Regions from separate parts of the Homo sapiens genome. Here region 2 is linked to region 1. A link means that fine-mapping ties the variant in region 1 to the expression of a gene that starts in the linked region. Tissue or cell type: whole blood. Region 1 holds a variant in brackets; the other region holds the start of a gene. All regions are shown on one strand. Distances are from middle to middle.

Region 1 (15,841 bases):
CAAGAAATATGAACCAGTTCACTGAAATCAAATGTCCCTTAGTAGCCTCACTTGTATTAAGAAACATGCAAAATTAAGCTAAATTCAAACACAAGTTCTCAGTATCAGACATTAAAAGTTCAAAAATTCAAACGTTTGTAAACTATTGATGAAGCAACTGAAAAGAAACACAAACTGCAAATAGGAATGAAAAATGGTACACCACTATGGAAGAAAATTCAGCAACATCTAGACAAATTACATATTTACCCTTTGAAGCAACAATTCTACTTTATCCCTAAACTATGAGGTGCCATATGCACAAAGCTAAAACACTGTAACAGCAAAAATTAACTCTGGGCCAGGGGAAGTGGCTCACACCTATAATCACAGCACTTCGGGAGGCTGAGGCAGGCGGATCACTTGAGGTCAGGAGTTCATGACAAGCCTGGCCATCATGGTGAAACCCCATCTCTACTAAAAATACAAAAATTAGCAAGGCTTGGTGGCGGGTGCCTGTAATCCCAGCTACTAGGGAGGCTGAGGTAGGAGAATGGCTTGAACCTAGGAGGAGGAGGTTGCAGTGAGCCAAGATCACGCCATTGCACTCCAGCCTGGGCAACAAGCACGAAACTCTGTCTCAAAAAAAAAAAAAATCGGCTAACGAATGAAGAAAGGAATAATTAACTTAGAATCCTGCCACTTCACAGCCTTACTGAAATAGTGAATCTAGGCCATGACCATTAATGGCCACTGAAATCACTGGGTAAAAGCTGACAAGGTACAAGGGAATAATCAAACTGATAACACCTGAAACCTGATCAATCATAACATCACAGACAGAGATCATTTGCCACATGATGTAATACAACAAAAAAATACCACCACTTAAGAAGTATTCTTTGAAAAAACAAAGTGAAACAAAAAACCTGGATTCAATGCAGTCAAGACATAAACCAGTATACAGAAAATGCAGGTAAAACAAGATTGGCCTTGTTGCAGTAGGGTGATGAATATGGGGAGGTATTCCTAATAATATGTAAAGGTAACCACAAAAAAAGCTTTAAACAGATTGCTAAAAAGAAAAGAACTTACAGTCTCATTAACAATTTAAAAAAAGAACAACTTACAGTCTCCTTAACAATTCTGGAGGATACCTGTCCTGCCATATCCTAAGACTGCATAATAATTTTTTAATTTTTTGCCAGGTGCAGTGGCTCATGCCTGTAATCCCAGCACTTTGTGAGGCCGAGGCAGGCATTTCAGGACCAGCCTGGCCAACATGGCAAAACCCCATCTCTACTAAAAATACAAAAATTGGCCAGGCGTGATGGCAAGTGCCTGTAATCCTAGCTGCTCAGGAGGCTGAGGCAGGAGAACCACTGGAACCCAGGAGGCGGAGGCTGCAGTGAGCCAAGATCACACCACTGCACTCCAGCCTGGGGGAAAGAGTGAGACTCCATCTCAAATAATAATAATTTTAAAATTTTTGCTAATTTGATTTTTTTAATGGTTATTTAATTTTATTTTGTATTTCCCTTACTCCCAATGAAGCTGAGCTTCTTTCCTATGATTAGGAATTTGCGTTTCTTTTTCTGTGAACTGCCTGTTCATCTTCTGTCAATTTTTTATTGGTGACTTTAATCTTTCATATTGATTTATAGGACCCCTTTAGAATCAATATTAAAAACATTTATACAATGCAACATCAAATTATCATTCTCAGCCAGGAGCGGTGGTGTGCACCTGTAGTCCCAGCTATTTGGAAGGATCACCTGAGCCTAGGAGTTCAAGTCCAGCCTGGGCAACACAGCAAGAACCCCATCTCTTAGGGGGGGAAAAAAATAGGCCCAGTGCAGTAGCTCATGCCAGTAATCCTGGCACTTTGTGAGGCTCAGGTGGCAGGTGGGAGATTTACTTGAGGCTAGGAGTTCAAGACCAGTATAGACAACACAGTGAGACTCGATCTCTCCAAAAAATTTAAAAATTAACCAGGCATGGTGACATGTGTCTGTAGTACCACCTCCTCAGGAGACTGAGGCAGGAAGATCGCTGGAGTGCAGGAGTTTAAGGCTACAATGAGCTATGACTGCACCACTGCACTCTAGCCTGGGCCACAAAGTGAGACTCCAGTCTCGTTTAGGAAAAAAAAAAGCCATCGTCCTCACCTACCGGCATCAATACTCTCTAAAAATAAAAGGCACAAATACACAAATCAACAATAGCTGGAGACTTCAATACCCATTTTCAGTAACTGATAGAACAATTAGAAGATCAGCAAGAAATAGAAGACTTCAGTAACACTGAACACTAACTAAACCTAACAGACATTTATTGAACACTCTTCCCAACAAGATATAAATCCTCAAGTGCACATGAGAAGACTGTAAAACAAGTTTGAATAAATTTAAAAGGAGTTAATTTATACAAACTATGTTCTTGACCACACAGAATGAAATTAGACATCATTAACTTAAGAAAATTTGGAAAATTCATGAATATTAAAATATTTAAACATACTCCTAAATAACAGATAAAAGAAATCACAAGGAAAGTTACAAAACTTTCATTTGAACAAAAATGAAAATGTAACACACCAGTTGAATGCAGCTTAAAGCAGCGCTTAACAGGAAGTGTACAGCTGTAGATGTGTGGTTATAAAAGATCTCAAATCAATAATTTAACTTTCCACTGTAAGAAACTAGAAGAGAGCAAACTAAACTCAAAGCAAGGAAAGAAAGATCAGAGCAGATACAAACGTGATACAGAATAGAAAAGCAATACAGAAAAATCGACAAAATCAGGCCGGGTGCAGTGTGAGCCTAGCACTTTGGGGGGTCAAGGTGGGCAGAACACTTGAACCCAGGAGTTAAGAAGTTAAGACCAGCTTGGGCAACATGGTGAAACCCTGTCTCTACTAAAAATACAAAAAAGAAAAAGTTTACCCAAGCATGGTGGCACATACACCTATAGTCCCAGCTATTTGGGAGGCTGCAGTGGGAGAATCGCCTGAGTCCAGGAAGTTGAGGGTGCAATGAGCCATCATCATACCACTGTACTCCAGTCTGGGAGAAGGGAGTGAAACCTTGCCTTAAAAAAAAAAAAAAAAAAAAAAAAAAAGGAGGCCGGGCGCAGTGGCCTGTAATCTCAGCACTTTGGGAGGCCGAGGCAGGCGGATCACGAGGTCAGGAGGTCGAGACCATCCTGGCTAACATGGTAAAACCCCATCTCTACTAAAAATTAAAAATAAAAAAAATTAGCCAGGCGTGGTGGCGGATGCCTGTAGTCCCAGCTACTTGGGAGACTGAGGCAGGAGAATCGCTTGAACCCAGGAGGCAGGGGAGCTTGCAGTGAGCAGAGATCGTGCCACTGCAATCCAGCCTGGGTGACAGAGCGAGACTCCGTCTCAAAAAACAAACAAACAAAAAAAACAGAAAAAGGAAAGGGAAGAGAAAATCAACAAAACCAAAATTGATTTAATGAAAATATCAAACTAATGGACAAACCAAGAAAACAGAAGACCTGAATTACTAATACCAGAAATGAAACAGAAGATAATAATGGTCAACCTTACAGAAACAGGATTATAAGGGAGTCTCATAGACAATTAGCCAACAAACTGGATAAATGAAACAAAATGGACAAACTCCTAGAAACACATAACCTACTAAAAATGAATCATGAAGAAACAGAAAATATAAATAGACCTATAACTAGTAAGGAGATTGAATCAGTAATCAAAAACCTCCCAGAATTCCAGCAGAGTTAAGAATTAAACCTCTTCCCAAGACATGAAGAGGAGAGAGCACTTTCTAACTCACTCTTTGAAGCCAGCATTACAGTAGTTGCCCCCTTATCCAAGGAGGATACATTCCAAGATCCCTAGTGGATGCCTCGAAAAGTACCAAACCCTATACAGCTGTTCCTCGACTTACAAAGGGGTTAAGTCTCAATAAACCGACTGTAAGTTGAAAATATACTAACTTGAAAGTCGCTTTAGACTTATGATATATTCAACCTACGATGGGCTTATCCAGACAACCCAACCATAAGTAGAGGTGCATACTCAATGCATATTGCTTTTGCATCAAGGTAAAGTTGAAAAATCTTAAGTTCAACCATCAAATTTGGGACCATCTGTATATACTGTTTTTTCCTACACACACCTATGATTGAGTTTAATTTCTAATTAGGCACAGTCCTCTTGTGCTTTTGGTCATTATTAAATAAAATAAGGGCTACTTGAACACAAGCACTGTGATACTGCAGTCCATCCGATAACTGATGGCTGACTGACTAACAGATGGGCAGCATATAGAGTGTAAATGCTGGACGAAGGAATGGAGCAAGATGAAGATGGCAAAATATTTCATCACACTACTCAGAATGTGACGTGTAACTTAAAACTTATGAATTTTTATTTCTGGAATTTTCCATTTAGGATTATCAAACCTCAGCCCACTTCGGGTAACTGAAACCATGGAAAGCAAAACCACAGAGAGCAAAATCACAGATCAGGGAGTACTGCCATACTCTAAAAAAGCCAGACAAAGACACTACAAGAAAACTATAGGGCCAGGCACAGTGGCTCATGCCTGTAATCCCAGCACTTTGGGAGGCCGAGGCGGGTGGATCACAAGGTCAAGAGTTCGACACCAGCCTGGCCAACATAGTGAAACCATGCCTCTTCCAAGAATACAAAAATTAGCCGGGCGTGGTAGTGCGTGCCTGTAATCTCAGCTACTCAGGTGACGGAGGCCAGAAAATTGCTTGAATCTGGGAGGCGGAGGTTGCAGTGAGCTGAGATCATGCCACTGCACTCTAGCCTGGGTGACAGAGCAAGACTCCATCTCAAAAAAAAAAAAAAAGAAAACTACAGACCAATTTTCCTTATGCACATTGATGCAAAAATCCTCAACAAAATATTAGCAAACCAAATTCAACAGTTTATTAAGCAGTTTATTATGGTTATACACCATAACCAAGGACTTATTCTAAGAATGTAATAACAGTTCACCTATGAAAACCAATCAATGTAATACAACACATTAAAATAAAGAGGAAAAACCCACATAATCATCTTAATTGATGCAGTAAAAGCATCTGACAAAATTCAACACACTTTCATAATAAAAACACTTAGAAAGCTAAGAAAAGAATAAAATTATCTCAAATAATAAAGGCCAAATATGAAAAACCCATACTTCACATCATATTCAATGGGGAAAGGCTGGAAAAAGGCTGGAAACTTTTCCTCTAAGATCAGAAACAAGACAAAGATGCACACTTTCCCCACTTCTATTCAGTATAATACAATACTGGAAATTCTAGCCAGAGTAATACGGCAAGAAAAAGAAAGAAATGGCATCCAAACTGGAAATGAAGAAGTAAAATTATCTCTGTTCGCTGATGACAAGATCTCATAAGACCCTAAAAATTCCACACACAAAAAACCTGTTACAACTAATAAATGAATTTAACAAAGTTACAAGATACAAAATCAACATTAAAAATCAGCTGCATTTCTATACACTAAAGATTAACAATGTTAAAATGAAACTTAGAAAATTCAAATTGGGCTGAGTCCAGTGGCTCACACCTGTAATCCTAATGTTTTGGGAGGCCAAGGCAGGAAGACAGCATGAGCTCAGGAATTTGAGGCCCTCCCAGGCGACATAGTGAGACTTTGTCTCTACTAATAATCAAAAAACGGCTGGGCACAGTGGCTCACTCCTGTAATCCCAGCATTTTGGGAAGCTGGGGCAGGCAGATCATGTGAGGTTGGGAGTTTGAGGTCAGCCTGACCAACATGGTGAAAACCTGTCTCTACTAACAATACAAAATTAGCTGGGTGTGGTGGTGCCTGCCTGTAATCCCAGCTACATGGGAGTCTGAGGCAGAAGAATCGCTTGAACCCGGGAGGCGGGGGTTGTGGTGAGCCGAGATTGCGCCACTGCACCCCAGCCTGCAACAACAGTGAAACTCTGTTTCAAAAAATAATAATAATCAAAAAACTTAGCCAGACGTGCTGGCGCACACCTGTGGTCCCATCTACTCAGGAGGCTGAGGTGGGAGGATCACTTGAAACTGGGAGTTCAAGTTTGCAGTGAGCTATGATCACCCCACTACACTCCAGCCTGGGCAAGAGTGACACCCAGCCTCAAAAAAAAAAAAAAAAAAAAATTCAAGTTGCAATAGCATCATAAAGAATAAGATACTTAGGAATAAATGTAACGAAGAAGGTGAATGACCTCTATGCTTAAAACTGTAAGACACTGCTGAAAGAAATTAAAGAAGGTATAAATAAACATAAAGACATCCCATGTTCATGGATTTAAAGATTTAATATAGTTAAGGTATCACTGTTACCAAAAGTGATCTGCAGATTCAATGCCAGTCCTATCAAAATCCCAATGATGCTTTTTGCAAGAAGAGAAAACTCCATCCTAAAATTTATATAGAATCTTAAGGGACCCCCAAAAGCCAAAACAATCTTGAAAAAGAAAAAAAATTATCTCACACTTTCTGAATTCAGAACTTACTATAAACATATGGCAATCAAAACAGTGTGGTTCTGGCATAAAAACAGACATGTAGACCAACAGAATAAAAAGCCCAAGTGGGCATGGTGGTGTGTGCCTGTATTTCTACCTACTGAGGAAGCTTAGACAGGAGAATCACTTGAGCCCAGGAGTTCAAGTCCAGTCTGGGCAACATGGCAAAGCCCAGTCTTTTTTTTTTTTTTTTTTTTGAGACGGAGTCTCGCTCTGTCGCCCAGGCTGGAGTGCAGTGGCACGATTTCCGCTCACTGCAAGCGTGGTCCACCTCCCGGGTTCATGCCATTCTCCTGCCTCAGCCTCCCGAGTATCTGGGACTACAGGCGCCCGCCACCATGCCCGGCTAATTTTTTGTATTTTTAGTAAAGACGGGGTTTCACCATGTTAGCCAGGGTAGTCTCGATCTCCTGACCTCGTGATCTGCCCGCCTCAGCCTTCCAAAGTGCTGGGATTACAGGCATGAGCCACTGCGCCCGGCCTAGTCTTTTAAAAAAATAAATTAAAAGCCTGGAAATAAAAAGCCCAGAAGTAAATACATATATGTCACAAATGATATGCAACAAGGGTACCAAGGCCATTTAATGAGAAAGGAAGGACAGTCTTTCAGCAAATGGTGATGGAAAAACTGGATATCCACATTAAAAAGAATGAAGTTGGATCGCTACCCTAAACCATATATAAAAGTTAATTCAAAATGGACCAAAAATCTAAACATAAAAGCAAAACCTATGAAACCCTTAGAAGAAAACATGGAGGAAAGCTTCCTGGTATTGGATTTGACAATGACTTCTTGGATATGGCACCAAAAGAACAGCCAACAAAAGAAAAAATACATAAAAATCAAACTTCATCAAAATGAAAAACCTTCATATATCAAAGGATACTATCAAGACAGTGAAAAGGCAATCTACAGAATGGCACAAAATACATGCAAATCACATATCTGATAAGAGATTAATACCTAGAATATATAATAAACTTTTTCAACTCACAGACAAAATAACAACTCAATTAAAAACAGGCAAGGAAACTGAATAGCCCTCTCTAAAAGAGATACACAAATGGCCAAGAAGCACATGAAAAGATACACATAGGCCGGGCGCGGTGGCTCATGTATGTATGTAATCCCAGCACTTTGGGAGGCTGAGGCAGACAGATCACTTGAGATCAGGAATTTGAAACCACCCTGGCCAACATGGTGAAACCCTGTCTCTAGTAAAAATACAAAAATTAGCCAGGCATGGTGGCGCATGCCTGTGTTCCTAGCTACTCTGGGGGCTGAAGCAGAAGAACTGCTTGAATCCGGGAGGCGGAGTTTGCAGTGAGCCAAGATTGCACCACTGCATTCCTGCCTAAGAGACAGACCAAAAATCTGTCCCCCAAAAAAACAAAAAAGAGAAAGAAAAAAGAAAAGATACACATCACTTATCATTAGGGAAATGCAAATCAAAACCATGAGGTATCACCACATACTCATTAGGATGGCTACTGTCTTAATCTGTTTTGTGCTGCTATAACAGGATACTTGAGACTGGGTAGTTTATAAATAACAGACATTTATTTTCTCAGTTTTGGAGGCAGGGAAGTCCAAAACAAGGTATTAGCATCTGGGGTGGACAGTCTTACAGCATCCTCACAAAGCAGAAGGTGGAAGGGCAAAAGAGGATGAGCCCTCTCCCACAAGCCCTTTTTAATAGCAGCATTAATCCATTGATAATGGTGTAGCCCTCATGACATAAACCCTTCCCAAAAGGCGCCACCTCGCAATACTCCTGCACTGGGAATTAAGTTCCCAACACATGAATTTTGGGAGACACATTCAGACTACAGCAGCTGTGATTTTTTTCTTAAATAAGAAGATAAGTGCTGGCAAGGACATGAAGAAATTAGAAGCCTTGCACACTGTTGGTAGGAATGTAAAATGGTGCAGCCCCTATGGAAAATGGTTTGGCAGGTACTCAAAAAATTAAAAATAGAATTACTCCATGACCCAGCAATTCCACTTTTGGCTATCTATTCAAAAGAAACAACAGCAGGGACTTGAACAGATTTTTATATACCCAAATTCACAGAATTCTCTCACAACAGCCAAACCGTAGAAGCAACCCAAGTGTTCAACTTATGAATGTTTAAACAAAAT[A/T]TGGTACATGTATACAATGGAATATCATTTAACCTTAAAAAAAAAAAAAGGAAACTGACTGTCACAACATGGATGAACATTAAGGACGTTGTAGTAAGTGAAATAAGCCAGTCACGGCTGGTAACGGTGGCTCATGCCTGTAATCCCAGCACTTTGGGAGGCCGAGGTGGGTGGATCACCTTAGGTCAGGAGTTTGAGACCAGCGTGGCCAACATGGTGCAAACCCGTCTCTACTAAAATACAAAAAAATTAGCCAGGCGTGGTGGCGGGCGCCTGTAATCCCAGCTACTTGAGAGGCTGAGGCAAGAGAATCACTTGAACCCGGCAGGCGGAGGTTGCAGTGAGCCGAGATCGCGCCATTGCACTCCAGCCTGGGCAACGAGAGTGAAATGGAAATGGAAATGGAAAGGAAAGGAAAGGAGCCAGTCACAAAAAATCAAATATGGCATAATTTCACTTATATGAGGTACCTACAGTAATTAAATTCATAGACAGTAAGTAGAATAGTGACTACCAGGAGCTAGGGAGTTATTGCTTAATGGGCACAGAGTTCAGTTTGGGATGATGAAAAAATTCTAGAGACAGATAGTGGTAATGAGTACACAACAATGTGAATGTACTTAATGCTATTGAACTGAAACTTTAAAAACTATGTTATGCATATACACTAAAATAAAAATAAGTAACTCAAACTACATCATGCATTAAAAATAAAATGCAAAACTATTAGCTTCTAGAGGATTATTAGGAGAAAATATAAGTGAACTTGGTCACATGGTTTCAAGATGAGTCTGTAGGTACAAGACTAAAGTCATGCCACATGCAAGAAAAAGTTGATATAGTGGACTTCACTAAAATTAAAAACCTCTGCTCTGCAAAAGACACTGGTAAGTGAATGAAAAGATAAGCCACAGATTGGAAGAAAGTATCTGCAACAATCTTATCTGATAAAGAACTTAAGAACATAGAAAGCGCCCTTACAAGTCACTAATACAACAACCCAATTAAAAAATGGGCAAATGATCTGAGAAAAGGGAGAGATGGAGAGTGACAGTTAATGGAAAGATATAGGGACTCTTTTGGGGGAGATGAAAATGTTCTAGAATTAGATAGTGGTAGTTCTACATCACCGTGAATATATATTAAAAAAACCAAACTGTATACTTTTAAAATGATGAACTGTATGGTACGTGAATGTATCTCAATTTTTAAAATGCAATAGAGAGAAAAGAGAGCAGAGATTCTTTTTCTGTCTCTGGAATACTTTAACTGTATGTGAAGCCTAGAACTGTCAGAGGCGTGTGAACCAGAGCGACTCCATCTTGAATAGGAGCTGGGTAAATGAGACTGAAACCTACTGGGCTGTATTCCCAGACAGTTAAGGAATTCTAACTCAAAGGATGAAGATAGGGAGCACAAGATACAGGTCATAAAGACCTTGCTGATAAAGCAGGTTACAGTAAAGAAGCTGGCTAAAACCCACCAAAAACAAGACAGAAATGAGAGTGATCTCTGGTCATCGTCACTGCTATACTCCCACCAGTGCCATGACAGTTTACAAATGTCATGGCAACGTCAGGAAGTTACCCTATAGGTCTAAAAGGGGGAGGCATGAATAATCCACCCCTTGTTTAGCATATAATCAAGAAACAGCCATAAAAATGGGCACCAGCAGCCCTCAGGGCTGCTCTGTCTATGGAGTAGCCATTCTTTTGTTCCTCTACTTTCCTAATAAACTTGCTTTCACTTTAGGGACTTGCCCTGAATTCTTTCTTGTTCGAGGTCTATCCAGGAATCCTCTCTTGGAGTCTGGATTGGGACCCCTTTCCTGTAACTGAACTATGGCAGCCATCTTGAGACCATGAGAGCCAGACAAATCAACACACTGAAGATGGAAAGAACCTGGTCCTTGACGCAAAATCAAGGACCAATCCTGGAACTGTCTTTCCATCAGATTTCTTGTTAAATGAGGTAATAAATCCCGATCGTCAACAAGAAAAAGGGGGAGGGGTGACAGGACCGCAACAGTCTCCTCAAAGATGATATACAGATGGCAAATATGCCTATAAAAAGATGTTCATTGCTGGGCGCAGTGGCTCACGCCTGTAATCCCAGGACTTTGGGAGGCCCAGGTCTTGATCACCTGAGGTCAGGAGTTCAAGACCAGCCTGGCCAACACGGTGAAACCCCATCTCTACTAAAAATACAAAAAAATTTGCTGGTTGTGGTGGCGGACGCCTGTAATCCCAGCTACTTGGGAGGCTGAGGCAGGAGAAAATGCTTGAAATCGGAAGGCGGAGGTTGCAGTGAGCCAAGATCGCGCCACTGCACTCCAGCCTGGGTGACAGAGTGAGACTCCGTTTCAAAAACAACAACAAAAAAATTAGCCTGTGTTTGAGGGTCCTCTTTTCTATTGCAGTTGACCCCACATGAAAGAGCGAAACTCCGTCTCAAAAAAAAAAAAGGAAAAGAAAAGATGTTCATTATGTGTCACTGTCATTTTAAAATGCAAATTAAAACAACAAGATTGTTAGAAGGATGGATCTGAAATGCATATTGCTAAATGAAAGAAGCAAGTCTGAAAGGCTACAAAGTGTAAGATACCATTTAAAGGGCATTCCGGAAAAAGCAAAACTATAGATAGTACCAGATCAGTGGTAGCTGGAGTTGGAGGGTAGGGTTAAATGGATGAAGCACAGGACACTTTCAGGTAGTAAAATTGTTCTGTATGATATTTTAATGATAGGTAAACGGCACCACGCATTTTTCAAAACCAGCAGAACTTCAGAGAACAAGAGTGAGCCTCAGTACATGTTAACTTTTAGAAAACATTTCAGAGGTGGAGAATCCCAGGATGGAACGCAGAATGTAGCAAAAGAATCTAATTGCAGTACAAACACAGGAAACAACCTCACTAAAGGGGGTATGGGGAAAGGCAGTGATCCAAGTAACTCTGGGAAATAGTGGAGTCTTTTTTTTTTTTTCATTTGGAAGCTGGAATTTTATCATAGGCAACAAATATTATCAGTTGTTTTTTTTTTTTCCTTTAAGACTGGAGGCAAAAAAAGTTGCGCATAAATGAAACTGGCTCAATTTCCCCATAGAAATTATATGTACAGGTCTTTGAATAAACATAGAAACTGACCCTTCCAGTTTTAAAACCTAAAACTTATATTTGTCTCCAATGAGTTCTTTCCTCAGGCAACGGACTGAAACTCACCAAATCACCATTTGACAATGAGACCCCAGACACCTCTTTCCCCTCATAGGTCAGGACTGCTTCCTTATCCTTTTCCTAATTGCTGTTTTCCTCACACATAGTTACATTCCTTTTTTCGGTACATAAACTCCCCAGTTTTAGTTGGTCGAGGAGGCAGATTCGAAACTGATCTCCCATTCTCTTCAGTAGGCAACACCTAAATAAAAAGGCAAAATTTTTCTCTGGCCGGGCGCAGTGGCTCTGGGTGTAATCCCAGAACTTTGGGAGGCCTAGACGGGCGGATCACTTGAGATCATGAGTTTGAGACCAGCCTGGCCAACATGGGGAAACCTCCCATCTCTACTAAAAATACAAAATTAGCCAGGCCACCGTGGTGGCACACGCCTGTAATCCCAGCTACTCGGGAGGCTGAGGCAGGAGAATCGCATGAACCCAGGAGGCAGAGGTTGTAGTGAGCCGAGATCGCACCATTGCACTCCAGCCTGGGCAACAAAAGCGAAACTCCATCTCAAAAAAAAAAAAAAAGGCTTTTTCCCCGGCAATACTCACCTCAGTGATTGGCTTTCTGTGTGGCGAGAAACAAGACCTAGATCGACCACCTGGCATTTCTGTAACTTAAACACTGTTATGCTATAGTTGAAAGTTGTACCCCATGGAAATAAAGATTAACAATTCTGGAACCATGTATGCTGTGACTGACCAATTAAATAAACTGGATGGCAGATGGTGGAAGCCAGGTTTCTCACTGCTGGAGTGGAAGGTTACAAATAAACAAGAGAAGGAAGCAAGAATGATCCATGTAATCATGGATTAGAGTTGAGCACATCATTATGAACTCATTTTTAACTTCATATAGATACAGATGGTCACAAATGGAAATACTTACAAATGTGTGTATTATATACACCTGTTTCCTCACACTCTATCAGCTGAAAGAGCCTGAAAGAAACTACACCCTAGAAACTCAACGGCAATAAGCATATCTAGTGTGACACATCTTGGTTTCAAATGCCATTCTCAAATAAAAGAAACCAGGGCTCCTTGGAGAAACAGCTAATTCTGGGACTAGAGTGGGAAATATGTAAGAGGAGCGTGGAGTATCTTGTAATCCCAGAATATAAGCATGGCAAGCCAGGTCTCACTAACTCAGGCCCCCAAAACAACTGTTTCTGTACAGACTGAGTAGTTAAGTTAAATGTTAAAAGCTGAAAGAGCCGGCCGGGCACGATGGCTCACATCTGTAATCCTAGCCACTCTGGGAGGCCAAGGTGGGCGGATCACCTGAAGTCAGGAGTTCGAAACCAGCCTGGCCAAAATGGTGAAACCCCATCTCTACTAAAAATACAAAAATATTAGCTGGGTGTGGTGGCAGGTGCCTGTAATCCCAGCTACTTTGGAGGCTGAGGCAGGAAAATCGCTTGAACGCAGGAGGCGGAGGTTGCAGTGAGCCAAGACTGCCCCACTGCACTCCAGCCTCAGTGACAGAGCAGAGCAAGACTCCATCTCGGAGGGCGCGACGGGGGGGAGGGGAAGAGCCAGTACCCTTATGCAAAGGCTGGAATTTAACAAAAGCCCACCAAGAGTTTTGCCTAGGCCTTTCCTGGGCCTTAAAGCATGACAAAATAATGAAGGAATTCTTAAGGCCCATTTAGGATTAAACAAGTTTTACTGTGGGTCTAAAGAAACTTCCCAGGCCTCCACAAACAAGTTTATTGGGGTGTGAAGGAACTCCCAAACCTCCGTGATTTAGCAGGAGACAAGATAAGGGTAATCACTCCAGCACCTGGACCCATTTAGATTAAGTAAATGTACTGAGGCTCCAGAGGAAGGTCTTCAAGACTCAGACCTTAGTTATGGACCAAAAGTTGTTAATCATTAAGATGAATGCACACTTACAGGTAGACATATAACTTAGAAGGTATATAAGCTACGGAAACTTTGTAATATTGAGTTGGCCTGGTGATAATTTCCAGGTATTCTCCCTGTAACCCATTGCAGAAATAAAAACTTTCTTCCTCCCCAGTTCATCTGCATCTCATTATTGGGCCTTAAGAAGTAGCAGCCCAACTCTCAGTTTGGTCCAGGAACATAAGTGTTTTAAAAAAAAACAAAGATAGGGTTATATATGTCAAAGCACTCCCAATGGCCAATGCTAGAACAATTTGAACAAGAAAATAAAGCAATATTGGATTTGGGGATAATCCAAAGTACAAAATAAATATCTATGAGTTCATACTGATAAAATGATTAAATAGAAAAGAACAAGCAAATCTCCCATGCAGAGGAATTTCAAATAATTTATGCAGACACTCTGCCCCCAAGTAGGTGGAATATAACTACTCATTCTGAAAGCGTGGGCTGCACATAGTGACTTCCTTCCAAAGTGTACAGTATAGAAACGGGTAAAAGAGCAACTTTACAGTGGAGAAATCTGATAAACAGTATCTCAGCCAGGTGATCAAGGTTAACATCAACAGTGGCACATACTGTTGATATGATATAATGAAAATGGTACTTCATCTCTATGGGCTTCTTCCCAAACACCCGTAATTCCACTCTAATCATGAGAAAAACAACAAGATTAATCTCAATTGAGAGACATTCTACAAAACACTTGATGAGTCCTCCTCAACACTGTCCAGGACATCAGAAACAAGGAGCGCCTAGGAAACTGTCACAGTCCAGAGGAGCCCAAGAAGACACAACAACTAAATGTAATGTAGTAGCATGAGATACTGGAACAGAAAAAGAACATTCAGTAAAATACAAGAAATCTCAGTAAAGTATGTATGGACTTTAGGGGTTTTTTCTTTGGCAGTGGATTTTTTTTTTCCTTTTTTTTTTTCCAAACACTCTCCCAAGTAGCTGGGACTACAGGCACACACCACCATGCCTGGTAATTTTTGCTTGTTTGAAGAGCGATGCCCAAGCTGGTCTTGAACTCCTGGTCTCAAGTGATCCTCTGGCCTCAGTGTCCCAAAGTAGTGTGAGCCACCATGCCTGGCTGCTTTTAGCTGATAATAGTGCATGGACACTGGCTCATTAATTTTGACAAATGTACCATGCCAGTGTAAAATGTTAATAATAAGGGAATATGGGTATGGAGTATAGGAAAACTCTATGCTATCTGCAATTTTTCTGTGGATATAAAACTATTCTATAAAAAAGTTTTATTTTAAAAAATAAATGGACAAGAATATAAAAACATCCTGAAGGAGAAAAAGAAAGGGACAGAGGAAAAATTAGTACTATTAAATGTTAGAGGCCGGGCACGGTGGCTCACGCCTATAATCCCAGCACTTTGAGAGGCTGAGGCAGGTGGATCACCTGAGGTCAGGAGTTCAAAACCAGCCTGACCAACATGGAGAAACCCCATCTCTACTAAAAATACAAAATTAGCTGGGTGTGGCGGCGCATGCCTGTAATCCTGGCTACTTGGGAGTCTGAGGCAGGAGAACTGCTTGAACCCGGGAGGCAGAGGTTGTGGTAAGCCGAGATCCTGCCAGTGCACTCCAGCCTGGGCAAGAAGAGCGAAACTCCGTCTCAAAAAAAGAAAAAAAATATATTAGAGCAGGGGTTAGCTAACTACAGCCCACAGTCCAAATCTAGTCCACTGCTTATTTTTATAAAGTTTCACTGATATTTAGCAGTGCTTGTTCATTTACATATTGTCTGTCTATGGCTGCTTTTGTGCTATACTGGCATAGCTGAGTAACATATGGCCAAAAAAACCCTACAACATTTATTACCAGGTCCTTTACAAAAAAAGTTTGCCAACCCCACCCCACTTTGTTTTCATTTTACTTTAATTTTTTGGAGACAGAGTCTCCCCATCTGTTGCCCAGGCTGAAGTGCAATGGTGCAATCTCACCTCACTGCAACCTCCGCCTCCTGGGTTCAAGACATTTTCATGCCTCAGCCTTCCCAGTAGCTGAAACTACAGGT
Region 2 (15,841 bases), 30 kb after region 1:
GAGGCTGAGGTGGGAGAATTACCTGCGCCCAGGAGGTCAAGGCTGCAATGAGCCAAGATCACGCCACCGCACTCCAGCCTGGGCAACCAAAGTGAGACTCTGCCGGAGGAGGAAAAAAAAAAAAACTTATGGAAAGATACTGAATGCCACTAGCCATAGGGAAGCACAAATTAAAAGAACAATGAGACATCACTAAAGACCAATTGGAAGGGCTAAAATTGGCCAGGTGTTGGTAAGGATATGGATGAACTAGAATTATCATACAGTGCTAGCTGCAATGTACAACTGTACAATTACTTTTAAAATAATTAGTTTGGCAATTTATTTTATTTTATTATTTTTTTAAAGACGGAGTCTTACCATGTTGCCCAGGCTGGTCTCAAATCCCTGGGCTCAGGCAATCCTCCTGCCTCGGCCTCCCAAAGTGCTGGGATTACACGCATGAGCCACCATGCCCAGCCAACAGTTTCTTAAAAAGTTAAATACATCTACCATATGACCCAGCCATTTCACTCCTATTTACTTTTAAAAAAGTGTATTCTGTACAAAGATTGGCACACAGATGTTCACAGCAGCTTTATTTGTAATAGCCAAAAACTGGTGAGAAGCCGAAAGTCCATCAACAAGGGAATGTACAAATCGTGGTTCATCCACAAATGGACTACTACTCAGTAATTAAAAAGAATGAACTACCGATTTACATAACACTGATAAATCTCAAAATAATTTATGCTGAACTTTTTAAAAGCCAAAGAGGAGAATATGCTGTATTTATAAAATAACAAAAAAAAAAAAAAGCTAGAAAATTCAAACCAGCTGGGGGCAGTAGCTCACGCCTGTAATCCCAGCACTTTGGGAGGCCGAGGCGGGCGGATGGTCTGAGGTCGGGAGTTTGAGACCAGCCTGACCAACATGGAGAAACCCCGTCTCTACTAAAAATACAAAATTAGCCTGGCATGGTGGCGCATGCCTGTAATCCCAACTACTTGGGAGGCTGAGGCAGGAGAATCACTTGAACCCAGGAGGCGGAGATTGTGGTGAGCCGTTATCACGCCATTGCACTCCAGCCTGGGCAACAAGAGTGAAACTCCATCTCAAAAAAAAAAAAAGGGGGAAGAAAATTCAAGCCAATATATAGTGACAGAGTAGATAAATTATCGCCTGGAAATGGAGGTGTAGAGGGAGGTAAAAAGAAACATTTGAGGGTGATGAATATGTTTACTATCTTGATTATGATAATGGTTTCACAGGTGTATAGATATGTCACAACACAAAACTGTGCACTCCAAACACACAGTTTATTTTATGTCAATTAAACTGAATAAGGTTGTTTAAAAAAGACAAGCAAATACAAAGCTAACTATAAAAAAGTCAGACTAATGCTGGGCACAGTGGCTCACACCTGCAATCCCAATGCTTTGGGAGGCCAAGGCAGGAGGATTCTTTGAAGCCAGGAGTTCGAGACCAGCCTGGACAACAAAGCAAGAGCACATCTCTACAAATAAAAATTTAAAAATTAGCCAGGCATGATGGGACGTACGTGTAGTCCCAGCTACCAGGAGGCTGAGGCAGGAAGATCACTTGAGCCCTGGAGTTCCCGGGTGCACTGAGCCATAATCACACCACTGCACTCCAGCCTGGATGAAACAGTAAGACTCTTGTCTCAAAAATAAATAAATAAATACACATTAAGAATAGATTTCTCTCCAATTCTCACAGAACAATGCTCTTGCTATGCCATAACCTCTTTCTCCATAGCATATCTAAGATTTCATAACCACTTGTGAAAGTTCTATGACATGCTGAACTGGAGGAAGGGAAGAGGAAAAGGGGAAGAGAGAACACATGTAAGAAACTGAGAAATTTCTTTTTTTTTTTTGAGAAAGAGTCTCGCTCTGTCGCCCAGGCTGGAGTGCAGTGGCACGATCTCTGCTCACTGCAAGCGTGGTCCACCTCCCAGATTCACGCCATTCTCCTGCCTCAGCCTCCCAAGTAGCTGGGACTACAGGCGCCCACCACCACGCCTGGCTAATTTTTTGTATTTTTAGTAGAGACAGGGTTTCACCGCGTCAGCCAGGATGGTCTCAATCTCCTGACCTCGTGATCCGCCTGCCTCAGCCTCCAAAAGTGCTGGGATTATAGGCGTAAGCCACCGCGTCCAGCTGAAACTGAGAAATTTCAAAAATGCTTCCATAGGGTAATAAAGCATGTTTACGTGTATACAGCCAAAAGGATACCTAACAGTAAGAAAAAATTAATGTATTCCTGTTACGTAGAGGAGGTTGTATGCACTTTTACCATTACCATTGAATACTTTCCTGGATATTCTAGTTCATTTAACATCAAAATAAGATATAAAATTATCAACACGTGCAATATTTGTGAATATTTATCCAGAAGATCCTACAAAATTAAATATTTTTTGAAAGACAAAGCACAAGTTATCAATGCAGAGTACCAGCCAGGCATGGTGGCTCATGCCTATAATCCCAGCACTCTGAGAGGCTGAGGCTGGAGGATTACTTGAGGCCAGGAGTTCAAGACAAGCCTGGACAACACAGTGAGACCCAATCTCTACAAAAAAATTTAAAAACTAGCCAGGCATAGTGCCACGTGCCTATAGTCCTTGCTACTAGGGAGGCTGAGGCAGGAGGATCATTTGAACCCAGGAGTTTAAGGTTACAGCAAGCTATGATTGTGCGCCACCGCACTCCAGCCTGGATGACAGAGTGAGGCCTCACCTCTTAAAAAAAAAAAAAAAAAGGGCCAGGCGCAGTGGCTCACGCCTGTAATTCCAGCACTTTGGGAGGCCAAGGCAGGTGGATCGCCTGAGGTCAGGAGTTCAAGACCAGCCTGGCCAACATGGTGCAACCCCATCTCTACTAAAAATACAAAATTATCCGGGCATGGTGGCACAAGCCTGTAATCCCAGCTACATGGGAGGCTGAGGCAGGAGAATCGCTTGAACCCGGCAGGCAGAGGCTGTAGTGAGCCAAGATCACACCATTGCACTCCAGCCTGGGCAACAACAGTGAAACTCCGTCTCAAAAAAAAAAAAAAGGAAATGCACACCAAGAATCCCTACAGAAGGTGAAAAGAGCCTACGAGGTCATTATTCACAGCTTTATGCCAACTAATTTGACATTTTAGATAAAATGGGCAAATTCCCAACAAAACACAACTTACTGAAACTGACAGAACTAAAAATCAAACAGAAAACCTACGCTGTTCTAGAATTAATCTCCAAAAGGCCAAGAACTATAAAGTTCTAGAACTGTATTACCAATCTTACACAAATTCTTCCACAGAATAGAAAACCAAACTATCCAATTTGTTTTTAAGGCAGATAGCATTTGGATATCTGTCTCCTCCAAATCTCATGTTGAAATGTGACCCCCAGTGTTGGAGGTGGGGTCTAGTGGCAGCTGTTTGGGTCATGGGGGCTGATCTCTTCTCAATTGTTTGGTGTCCTTCTCACAGTAATGAGTGAGTCCTCGCTCCATTAGTTACCACAAGATCTGATTGGTTTTGTTTATTGTTTGTTTTTGAGACAGAGTCTCACTCTGTCACCCAGGGTGGAGTGCAGTGGCGCCTCCCAGTTTCAAACAATTCTCCTGTCTCAGCCTCCCAGGTAGCTAGGACTACAGGTATGCACCATCACACCCGGCTAATTTTTGTATTTTTAGTAGAGATGGGGTTTCACTATGTTGGCCACGCTGGTCTCCAACTGCTGACCTTAAGTGATCCACCGCACGCGGCCAAGATCTCATTGCTAAAAGGAGCCTGGCACCTCCTCCCCTCTCTCTCTTGCTCCCTCCCCAACACGTGATAAGCTGCTTCCCCTTCGCCTTCTGTCCTGATTGCAAGCTTTCTGAGGCCCTCACCAGAAACAGATGCTGGTGCTAAGCTTCCTGTACAGCCTAAAGAACCACTTTTCTTGATAAATTCCCCAGTCTCAGGTATTCTCAGGTATTCCTTTACAGCAACGCAAACAGCTAACATACACCTCCTTTTTTTTTTTTTGGAAATGGAGTCTCGCTCTGTCGCCAGGCTGGAGTGCAGTCTGTCGCCAGGCTGGAGTGCAGTGGCACGATCTCAGCTCACTGCAACCTCCGCCTCCCAGGTTCAAGCGATTCTCCTGCCTCAGCCTCCTGAGTAGCTGGGACTACAGGCGCCTGCCACCATGCCCAGCTAACTTTTATATTTTTATAGAGACAGGATTTCACCATGTTGGCCAGGATGGTCTTGATCTCTTGACCTTGTGATCCGCCCACGTCAGCCTCCCAAAGTGCTGGGATTACAGGTGTGAGCCACCGTGCCCGGCGACACACCTCCCTTTTCTAGAAGGAAATGATCTCTTGGAGTAAATACTTGATTCTCTTTTATTTTTCAGATTATGACATCTCTCTGCCAGTATCTTTTTCTGGTCAATATATCTCTTTGCCAAATAAGGTAGAAAAAAGTTGTCAGGCCAAGCATCATGGCTCTAACCTATAATCCCAGCACTGGGAGGCTGAGACAGGAGGATCATTTGAGCCCAGGAGTTTGAGACCAGCTTGGGAAACAGGAAGACTTCATCTCTACAAAAAATAAATTAAAAAAAAAAAAAAAAAAAAGCCAGGCATGGTGGCACATATCTGTTGTCCCAGCTACTCAGGAGGCTGAGGTGAGAGGACTGCTTGAGCCCAAGAATTTAAGGCTGCAGTGAGCCATGACTGGCCATTGCAGCCTGGATGACAGCAAGACCCTATCTCAAAAAAAAAAACACAGAAAACAAAAAAGAAAAAAGTTATCAGCTGGACAATCTTCCCTGTGATTACTAGTAGCATCTAAGAACCTGAAATCATGAGTGTCACTGAAACCAAGCTGTAAGGAAATTCCAACACATTAAAATGAAATCAATTCATATAGGGGCTATAGGACACAGCACCCGGAGGTGACATTAGAAACTGCAAACAGGAAAAACACATAATTCAGGGGTACTAGCATATGACACAAACATATATGATTAAAAGCATTCACTGTTCTCCCAACGTCCACACACTCAGAAAAACACTGCTACCTGCTCATGCTAGCCTTCTCACTATCTACAGCAAACACCAAGAAAACTCAGTATTCATCACAATTAACATCAACTCCATGCGTTCTCAGAGAGGAGGAAAGACCAGGCAGGAATCTACCTGTGCCCAAAATTAGGTTACCATCAGGATCCAACGGAGAAAGAACTGGGGAATAAACTGAGTCTAGGTTTCTTTGAGTAAACATCCCTCGCAAGTTTCTGCTCTTAAGCACACAAATTTAGCAACTTTAATTTCTAGGTTGGGGTCTAGTTCCTGTCAACACTAGGAAATGGGAGACAACTACTTTTATCACGGTCAGATCACCTATAGATTGTGATCATTCAATCATACATGCAAAGAATATTACAAAATACTAACAACATTAGTATGTATTAAGGGGCTTACTAGATGCCAAGTTGCAGCAACCCTCACAACCCTCTGAGGTAAATGCCATTATTAATCAGGAGTTACGTTAACTTATCGAACTGTGGAAACTGGGATTTCAAGCATGCTCGTCTAATCACTATACTAATAATGCTTCAACCTGCCAATTTATTTTTTTATTCTGTAAGCCATAAGGAGCCAATGAAAAAAATTAAGGACAGCAGTAATGATCATCTTTACATGCTAGAACACACTACTCAGCCACGTGCAAGGTGGACTGACGCTGGGGTGAGCAAGGGTCTTGAAAGAGATAGTCAAAGTCTGGGTCAAAAATGCTGAGGAAATTCTGAGCATAAGAATGCATAGGAGAGGATAAAAACCTAAAATCTGTATCTAATAAACTTAGCTAGACTTTCTGATTGTTTTAAGTATGGGAAGGGATGAAGGAAGCTACCTCGCAGGTTACTAGCTGGGCCACTGGTTAGTAATTACTGTCCATCAATTCATGAGACAGGAGGAGGAACTGGTGCTTTAGTTTTGTGTAGCAAGCAGGAAGAGGACAAGTCTACTTAACGCGAATCAAAATGAGAGCAAGCAATTATACAGAATTTCTCTCCCTCGACAAAATAAGCTTCTCATATTACAGAGATCTTAACTTTGAAATGCTTTTCAAAATAGGGAGTCACTTGGGCTGGGAGGGGACTTCAACTAAGTCCTCATTTTACAGAGGAGGCACTGAGGGGCAAGGCTGTTTCAATACCCTGTCCAGAGTGCGCACTGTTCAGGCAAAACCAGGACTAAAAACCAGCTCTGCCGGATCCGTTCTACCTACTGCTCCTTCTGCTTCAGCTGCCCTCCCAACCTACTAATAGGGATTTACATCCCCAAATACGTTCATGTAAACACTTAGCATTCTTCAACTAAACACAAAATCAGATATGTAAGCTAAAAATCTAAAGCCAAAAACATGTATTTAATTTCCATAAAATTTCTACTTTTCTTTGGAAAAACTTTCCCATTGTGTCAGTTTCTATTCACTGTAACATTCTCTATATTTCAGGTCCTAAGACCAAAAAAAAAAAATCCTTTTTAAACTTAGGCCTTGAAGAAACGACAAACCCTCTAGGCTTAATATTGCACCATATGAAACCACTGACACAGACAAGGCCTGTTCTGCCGAAACCAGGCCAGTTAAGTCAGGGCTCAATTGCTTCTGTATCATTGTCAGAAGCCATCTCGACCTCAAGCAAAAGTAAAACTGGAGAAAGAGGCCAGCCTAACTTGCTCCTCGGCTGGTCCCCAGCAACGCCCCTGGAAACTCTGCTCCCCATCGCTAGGACCGCCCCTCCGACGCCGGGAGAACACGGAAGGAGCAGCAAGGCGCTGCCCGGCATCTGCCGCCAACTTCCCCGTCGACGGTCTGATTCAAATGCTCCCTACCTGTTTTCCATGTAGACTTGGAGAGAAACTGCGCCAGGAAAACTGTTATCAACTGTTACAGGGACGGAGAACTCCGAAATAACCAAATTACTACTTATATTCACTGTCCCATGTCTAGCGCCTTTTGAAACAATAACCAAATCCTGTAAAGTTTTGTCTGCGATGAGCAGTCACTAGGAAAAACCTGTATTCGTGATGAATTCGCCTCCCCCCCCAGAAAAGGACCGACTTTCCAAGAGCCGAAGCCCCTGCCCGGAGCGGCGGGCTCGCGGGCCCTGGGTGCGACCCCACCCAGCCTCCCCGGGATTCAGGCAGCCGGGCCCCGCGCCCGCGCTCACCCAGGTGCTCCCCGCGGCCTGCGCGCCCGCGCGCTTCTCCGGCATGGCTCCCGCCTCGGGCTCCGACGCCGCCTTCTCCTCCAGCTCCGGCGGCGGCTCCACGCTCATGCCGCGGCCATGCCCGCGCCAGCCCGGGGCGCTCCGGGACGACGGCGACGCCGCGGAGGCGGCGGCGGTGCCCGCGCCCTCATGGGCTCTGCGGCCCGCGGCGGCCTGCGGGTCAGGCGGCGGCGCCAGCGGCGGCGCCGAGGGCTGAGGAGGCGGCGGAGGCTGAAGCTGCGGATCAGGCTAGCAGAAGACCGCAGCTCCAGGAACCGACCACTTATCAAACCGCACCGACCCCGACTCTCGCAGTTACCGGCGGCGTCAGGGGCGGGCTGCACGGTTAAGAGACTGTGCCCCGCCCCGCCTCCCCACAGGCCGGCGCCGGGCAGGAGGCCCCGCCCCGCACCTCAGCTCCCGCCTCGAGAACGAGTCCCGCGCCTGAGTAGCCTCCAGCGACGCCACGCCCACTTCAGAGACCCCTCCTTTACCTCGCGACTGGCCCCTTGGCATCAGGACTTCGCGGCGCGCGGGAAGTACGTCATTTCGAGAGCCCGTACGACTGATTTCTTTTTCCGGAGAATCTGGACTGAGGCTAGCAAGCGGGGAGGGGCAAACTCGTGGGGGTTTGGTAGTGATTGCAGTTCAGTTTTGGTCTTGGTTTGCGCCAACCCGCCAACCTCTCAAGTTTTTCTATGGTTCTCTAAGAAGAAAATAATATACTAGCAATGTTTCCCAAACGTACTTGAACACAACACTTTTTATTCTTGACACATGATTAATATCTTGTAGAATGTGTAGGACGCAGTTGGAAAAGCCTGGCTTATGTTTATTTATTTTGAAAGATATGCACCTAATACTGAAATATAAAAAAGCCTACAGGCCTGGAGCGGTGGCCCACACCTATAATCCCAGCACTTTGGGAGGCCGAGGCGGCTGGTTCACCTGAGGTCAGGAGTTAGAGACCAGCCTGGCCAACGCGGTGAAACCCTGTCTCTACTAAAAAACAAAAACAAAAACAAAAAACACCAAAAAAATTAGCCGGGCTTGGTGGCGCACGCCTGTAATCCAAGCTACTCGGGAGGCTGAGGCAGGAGAATAGCTTGAACCTGGGAGCCGGAGGTTGCAGTGAGCCGAGATAGCGTCACTGCACTCCATCCTGGGCGACAGAGTGAGGCTCTGTCTCACAAAAAAAAAAAAAAAATCTTTTTACAAACATCAATAGAAAAAAGAATAAAATTATTTCTATTAACAGGATTAGTAATTTTAATTGAATTAAAGTCATTTCATTTAAGAATTTTTTCAGGTTGGGCGTGGTGGCTCACGCCTGTAATCCCAGGACTTTGGCAGGCAGAGGTGGGCGGATCGCCTGAGGTCAAGAGTTCCAGACCAGCCTGGCCAACATGGTGAAACCCCGTCTCTACTAAAAATACAGAAGTTAGCCGGGCATGGTGGCGGATGCCTGTAATCCCAGCTACTTGGGAGGCTGAGGGAAGAGAATCGCTTGAACCCAGGAGGCGGAGGTTGCAGTGAGCCGAGATGGTGCACTGCACTCCACCCTGGGTGACAAGAGTGAGACTTCGTCTCCAAAAAAAAAAAAAAAAAAAGCCTCTTTTTCGCTTCCCACCCACTACCCCCAAACACACACACACACACTTTGCAGAAGTCTTTACTTTTATTTATTTATTTATTTATTTGAGACAGAGTCTTGCTCTGTCACCCAGGCTACAGTCACCCAGCCTAGATCAGTGGCGTGATCTAGGTTCACTGCAACCTCTACCTCCCGCATTCAAGCGACTCTCCTGCCTGAGCCTGCCGAGTAGCTGGGATTACAGGTGCGCGTCACCATGCCCGGCTAATTTTTGTATTTTTAGTAGAGACGGGGTTTCACCATGTTGGCTGGGCTGGTCTTGAACTACTGACTTCAAGTGATCCGCCCCCCTCGGCTCACCGAGCCGGCCTGGTCTTTTTTCTTTTTTTTTTTTTTTTTTTGAGACGAAATTTCGCTTTTGTCGCCCAGCCTAGATCAGTGGCTCGATCTCGGCTCACTGCAACCTGTGCCTCCTGGGTTCAAGCAATTCTCCTGCCTCAGACTCTCGAGTAGCTGGGATTACAGGTGCATGCCACGACCTGGCTATCTTCTGTATGTTTAGTAGAGACAAGTTCACCATGTTGGCCAGGCTGTTCTCGAATTCCTGATCTCAGGTGATCCACCCGCCTCGACCTCCCATAGTGCTGGGATTACAGGCGTGAGCGACTACACCCAGCCTGATTTGTCTACTTTTCTGAATGATTGTTTTAACAAATAGTTTTCAAAACACAGAGGGAATATATGTATTATGTTATGCTGTTTGAGTATTATGTTTATGCCACTTATGAGCTTGGGTATCAGTTTCTGATTCCTGTATCCATGAAACAGAAAAGTTTGTAAACTGTTTTTTTGTTTTCTTTTGAGACAGTCTTGCTCTGTTGCCCAGTCTGGAGTACAGTGGCGCGATCTCAGCTCACTGCAACCTCTGCCTCTCCGGTTCAAACGATTGTGGTGCCTCAGCCTCCCGAGTAGCTGGGACTACAGGCACCTGCCACCACACCCAGCCAATTTTTGTATTTTTAGTAGAGACAGGGTTTCACCATGTTGGCTGGGCTGGTCTCCAACTCCTGACCTCAAGTGATCCGCCTGCCTCAACATCCCAAAGTGCTGGGATTACAGGCATGAGCCACCATGCCCAGCCTGGACTGTTTTCTTAAATAGACTTACAATAAAGTTATCCTAGAGGGAATAATGGAGTTTTTTGAAGTTTATTTTCTTTATCACAAAAGCCACTAAAGTTTGCTATAATACTAGCAGTGTATATTTTTAACTACAGAATAGGCTGTGATTCTACTGAGGCAAACTTATAAATTATACCAGATAAGTATACCATTATATCTTTGATGGTTGATATTGCCATATCAGCTATATCAGAGTAACATATGCTAATACAGTTCTTTTTCCTAAGAGGAGAAATTCAAACAATTTGCTGATCTTTTTTTTTTTTTTTTTTTTGATACAGAGTCTTGCTCTGTCGCCTAGGCTGGAGTTCAGTGACGCGATCACAGCTCACTGCAGCCTTGACCTCCTGGGCTCAAGTGATCCTCCCACCTCAGCCTCCTGGGTAGCTGGGACCACAGGTGCATAAAACCATGCCTGGCTACCTTTTTAATTTTTGGTAGAGACAGTGTCTCACTGTGTTGCCCAGCCTGTTCTCCAACTCCTGGGCTCAAGCAATCTTCCTACCTCAGCCTCCCAAAGTACTGGAATTATAGGCGTGAGCCACCGTGCCTAGCCTTGCTGATTTCTATTTAATATTTTTGTTGAGATTTTTCGCTTTAAATAAATTAATCATCTGGTCTTAAAGCTGGATTTTAAGATTGGGTTAAACTTAATGCTAAAATAGGGTATCTAATAACTGAGAGTCTTTAATCCCCAAGACTATCCTCTGGTTTAATGATTCACTAGAAGAACCCCAAAAAGCTATTTTACTCATAGTTACAGTTTATTATAGTGAAAGGATACAGATGAAAATAGCAAAGGTAAGAGGCAGCAGAGTCCACGAGAGACCACGCACAAGCTTCCAGTTGTCCTTTCTGAGTAGAGTCTATGGGCAGCACCACTAATTCTCCCAGCAATGATATGGATCTGGGTGCTGTGCTCTCTCTCTCTCTACTTGTGTGTGTGTGTGTGTGTGTGTGTGTGTGTGTGTGTGTGTGTGTTAACAATACATGTAGTTTCAGAATTTCTAACTCTGTGGAAGCAAGTTTTCCAACTACAGTGTTTATGTACGGTTCTTTTTGTTTTTATCCTGAAAGTAGCCAGTCAAAACAGTTTTCCAAATCAATTCAATTTCTTTCTTATTTACTCAAATCAATTCTTTTTTGATTGAGTAATCAATCAAACTTTTATTTATTTACTCAATTTATTTTTTCCCCACTCACTTTGGTGAGGTTATGCCATACCTTTGTAATATAATTAAGTTCATTTGTCGTGCTGGCCATTCTATCCTAAGATCCCACATTAATTTGCATAAAGTTAACTCTCTGCAGTGTATTGTTCTGTGGATTTTGACAAATGGATGGGCCAGGTGCAGTGGCTCAGGCCTGTAATCCCAGCACTTTGGGAGGTCGAGGTGGGAGGATCACTTGAGACCAGGACTTCAAGAGAAATAGGTAGTTATGCATCTACTGCCACAAGACCCTAAATATTCCCTTGTGTGGTCAATTTGTAATCAACAGAAAGGGGGAAGTGGTATTGAATTCATCACTTTTTATATATAATTTGAATCTTTTTTAAAGTATGATGCAATTGGGTTGTTCAATAATGTCTGTGAGTCTCCTTGTACTGGCAGTTGTCTGCTGGGAAGGAAATCCAGAGCTGGCACCTGCATGGCCCAGATCCAAGCCAAGGTGTATAAAGCAATACCTTCACATGGTATCTTTGTTGCTGTTTCTCCACCCGTCTACTGTTCCCTGTGTGAAAGGATAACAAACTGTCTTACGATAATTGTCTAAATGTTTAAAACACACTTCACTTAATTTTGTTTGTTCCGAGCACTACTTTGTAATTGCAATTATAACAATGTGTTAAGATAAACTTATTTTCACAGATTTTTTTTTTTTGAGATGCAATATCGCTCTCTCACCCAGGCTGGAGTGTGGGGTGCAGTGGTGCAATTTTGGCTCACTGCAACCTCTGCCTCCCAGGCTCAAGCGATTCTCCTGTCTCAGCTTCCCAAGTAGCTGGGATTACAGGTGCATACAACCACACCCAGATAATTTTTTTTTTTTTTGAGATGGATTCTTGCTCTGTCGCCCAGACTGGAGCGCAGTGGTGCAATTTTGGCTCACTGCAAGCTCCACCTCCCGGGCTCAAGCAATTCTCCTGTCTCAGCCTCCCAAGTAGCTGGATCACAGGCACATACTACCACACCTAGATAATTTTTTTGTTTTTTCAGACGGTGTCTCGCTCTGTCACTCTAGAGTATAGTGGCACAATCTCAGCTCACTGCAACCTCCGCCTCCCAGGTTCAAGCAATTCTCATGCCTCAGCCTCCTGAGTAGCTGGGATCACAGGTGCCCACCACCACGCCCGGCTAACTTTTGTATTTTTAGTAGAGATGGGGTTTCACCATGTTGGCCAGGCTGGTCTCAAACTCCTGAACTCAGGTGATCTGCTCGCCTTGGCCTCCCAAAGTGGTGGGATTACAAGGGTAAGCCACTGCGACTGGCAACAGATTTTAGTTTAAGATAATGTTCTAATGAAAACTTGTTTTCAGTATTTGCAATGCATTATCAGTCCTATCTGAGAGTATTCAGTTAGGTTGGCGCTTTTTTTTCTCTTTTTTTTTCTTTTGTTTTTAATGGAGAACTATCCTTACTGAACCTCCTCAATTATTTGCCTTCCATTCAGCACTAAGCTAAAAGGCAGATGTGAATTGCCATCTGGAAAAAAAGTATATTTGGCAATTATACATACCAAGGTGATTCAGAGTCAAATGGACCGGGCAAATGTTTTATACAAAGGGTGGAATTTTAGTTAGAATGGCGATCATTAAAAAGTCAGGAAACAACAGGTGCTGGAGAGGATGTGGAGAAATAGGAACGCTTTTACACTGTTGGTAGTGTAAACTAGTTCAACCATTGTAGAAGACAGTGTGGCAATTCCTCGAGGATCTAGAACTAGAAATACCATTTGACCCAATGATCCCATTACTGGGTATATACTCAAAGGATTATAAATCATGCTACTATAAAGACACATGCACACATATGTTTATTGTGGCACTATTCACAATACCAAAAACTTGGAACCAACCCAAATGTCCATCAATGATATACTGGATTAAGAGAATGTGGCACATATACACCATGGAATATTATGCAGCCATAAAAAAGGATGAGTTCATGTCCTTTGTAGGGACATGGATGAAGCTGGAAACCATCATTCTGAGCAGACTATCACAAGGACAGAAAACCTTGACACAGGGCAGGAAACATCACACATGGGGGCCTGTTGTGAGTTGGGGGGCAGGGGGAGGGATAGCATTAGGAGAAATACCTGATGTAAATGATGAGTTAATGGGTGCAGCAAACCAACATGGCACATGTATACCCATGTAACAAACCTGCACGCTGTGCTCACGTACCCTAGAACTTAAAGCATAATAATAATAATAAAAAGGTAGAATTTTACGTGACCCAGGCAAAGGGTTTATTCTACAATGTGTGTGAACCATGTAAAAAGTAGGAACGTAAGGACTTTTTTCCTTGCCCTACTTCCGTTTCACATGCTAGAAATATATACAGCATGCTGCCTGCTGTCCCTGTAGTCTTCGCAACAGAAGTGATACCATCTCTATGCCAGAAGCAGGAATTGCTGATGTAGGTCAGCCCCTCTTTTTCCTTGTCACCCTCGCATAGTCAATGATCAAATCTTGCTTATGCCCTTTCTCACCTCCTATCTCTTTCACCACTCCATCAAAGCAACTGTTGTGCCCTATTTATTTTATATGTCAGATTGTTCTATGCCTGCTTACTGCCTTAGTTCATACCCTTCCCATTTCTCAGCAGTTTGCTGTACATCTTTGGGTTCATTTCCACTTATGCATTGTACTCTTCACACAAAATTAGTCTTTCTCACCAAAAGCAATTGTAACAAAAGCAAAAATTGACAAATGGGATCTAATTAAATGTAGGAGCTTCTACATAGTTAAGAAACTGTCAACAGAGTAAACAGCCTACAAAATGGGAGAAAGTTTTTGCAAACTATGCATCTGACAAAAGTCTCACATCCAGGCTCTATTAATATAAGGAACTTAAACAAATCAACAAGAAAAAAAAGCCAACCCCATTAAAAAGTAGGCAAAGGACATGAGCAGACACTTTTCAAAAGAAAACATACATGCGGCCAATGAACATATGAAAAAAAGCTCAATATCACTTATCATTAGAGAAATGCAAATCAAAACCACAATGAGATACCATCTCACACCAGTCAGGATGGCTATTATTAAAAAGTCAAAAAATAACAGATTCTGACAAGGTTGCAGAGAGAAGGGAATGCTTTTACACTGTTGGCGGGAGTGTAAATTAGTGCAAACCATTGTGGAAAGCACTGTGACGATTACTCGAAGAGCTAAAAACAGAACTATCATTCAACGTAGCAGTCCCATCTCTGAGTATATTACCCAGAGGAATATAAATCATTCTATCATAAAGACACATGCATGTGAATGTTCACTGCAGCACTAGTCACAATAGCAAAGACATGGAATCAACCTAAATGCCCATCAATGACAGATTGGATAAAGAAAATGTGGTACATACATGCCATGGAATAGTATGCAGCCATAGAAAAGAATGAGATGATATATTTTGCTGGATCACTCATGGAGCTAAAGGCTATTATCCTTAGCAAACTAGCACAGGAACAGAAAACCAAATACCACATGTTCTCACTTATAGGTGGGAGCTAATTGATAAGAACTCAATGACACAAATAGGCGAACAACAGACAGTGGGGACTACTTGAGGGTGGAGGGTGGGGGGAGGGAGAGGATTCAAAAAAATAACTATTGGGTACTAGGCTTAGTACCTGGGCGACAAAATAATCTGTACAACAAACCCCCATGACACTAGGTTACCTATATAACAAACCTGCACATGTACCCCTGAACCTAAAAGTTTGGGGAAAAAAATGGTCTTTCTAAAATACAAATCTATCTTACTACATCACTTTCTTGCTAAAAATTCTTCAAGATATCCCGTTTTCATGAAGGAAAAGGCTCTGGTGCGTTAGCATGACATGAATGCCTCAGGCTCTGGCCTCTCCCCACCTGTCAGCCTTATCTCCTGGCATTTTTCTACACCCACATCATTGGGCTCCCATCATCTGTCAGGCTCCCTCAGTCTGAAATAGCCTCTTTCTCCTTCTCCTCCAGCCATTTATCTAATTCCTGTTTATAGGTATTCTAACTCCTGTTAAGACTCAGCTCAGGTATGGTCTCCACCAGGTTTTCCCCAAGTTTCCTTTCCGTATTGCAAAACCTTTCCTTGCACCTTCTGTACACTTTGTTTAGATTTCTGTCAACATATAGTTCTCTGAATGTTTAAAAAAAACAAAAAACAAACAAAAAAACACATAATCTTGCCGGGCACAGTGGCTCACGCCTGTAATCCCAGTACTTTGGGAGGCCAAGGTGGGTGGATCACTTGAGGTCAGGGGTTCGAGACCAGCCTGGCCAAAATGGAGAAACCTCGTCTCTACTAAAATACAAAAATTAGCTGGGCCTGGTGGTGGGTGCCTGTAATCCCAGCTACTCAGGAGGCTGAGGCAGGAGAATTGCTTGAACCCGAGAGGCAGAGGTTGCATGAGCCAAGATTGCACTATTGCACTCCAGCCAGGCGACAGAGCGAGACTCCGTCTCAAAAAACAAAAACAAACAAACAAACAAAAAACATAATCTTATCCAAAGAGATAGTGAGCACATGCCAACATTTTATTTATCTCGGTAATAAGGGAACCCATAAAGTGGGTTCAAA

The links. PIP is the estimated chance that this variant, and not a neighbour inherited with it, causes the effect.
Region 2: SLC71A2 starts here. The variant in region 1 is fine-mapped to the expression of SLC71A2 in whole blood (INTERVAL, PIP above 0.99).

Annotation. Positions count from the first base shown.
Region 1 is chr9:94,396,388-94,412,228 of GRCh38, reverse strand. The region is part of intron 1 of SLC71A2 (solute carrier family 71 member 2); the gene reads right to left. Among named protein-coding and RNA genes, the nearest start is that of SLC71A2, 30 kb to the right of the region's middle. The variant A/T (reference allele first, on the strand shown) is at 8,677.
Region 2 is chr9:94,366,309-94,382,149 of GRCh38, reverse strand. It overlaps SLC71A2 (solute carrier family 71 member 2), which reads right to left and starts at 7,581. Exons shown (of 12, transcript NM_032558.3): 1 at 7,223-7,581. The coding sequence starts at 7,330. RefSeq lists enhancers at 1,701-1,780, 6,812-7,311, 7,312-7,813 and a silencer at 7,363-7,762.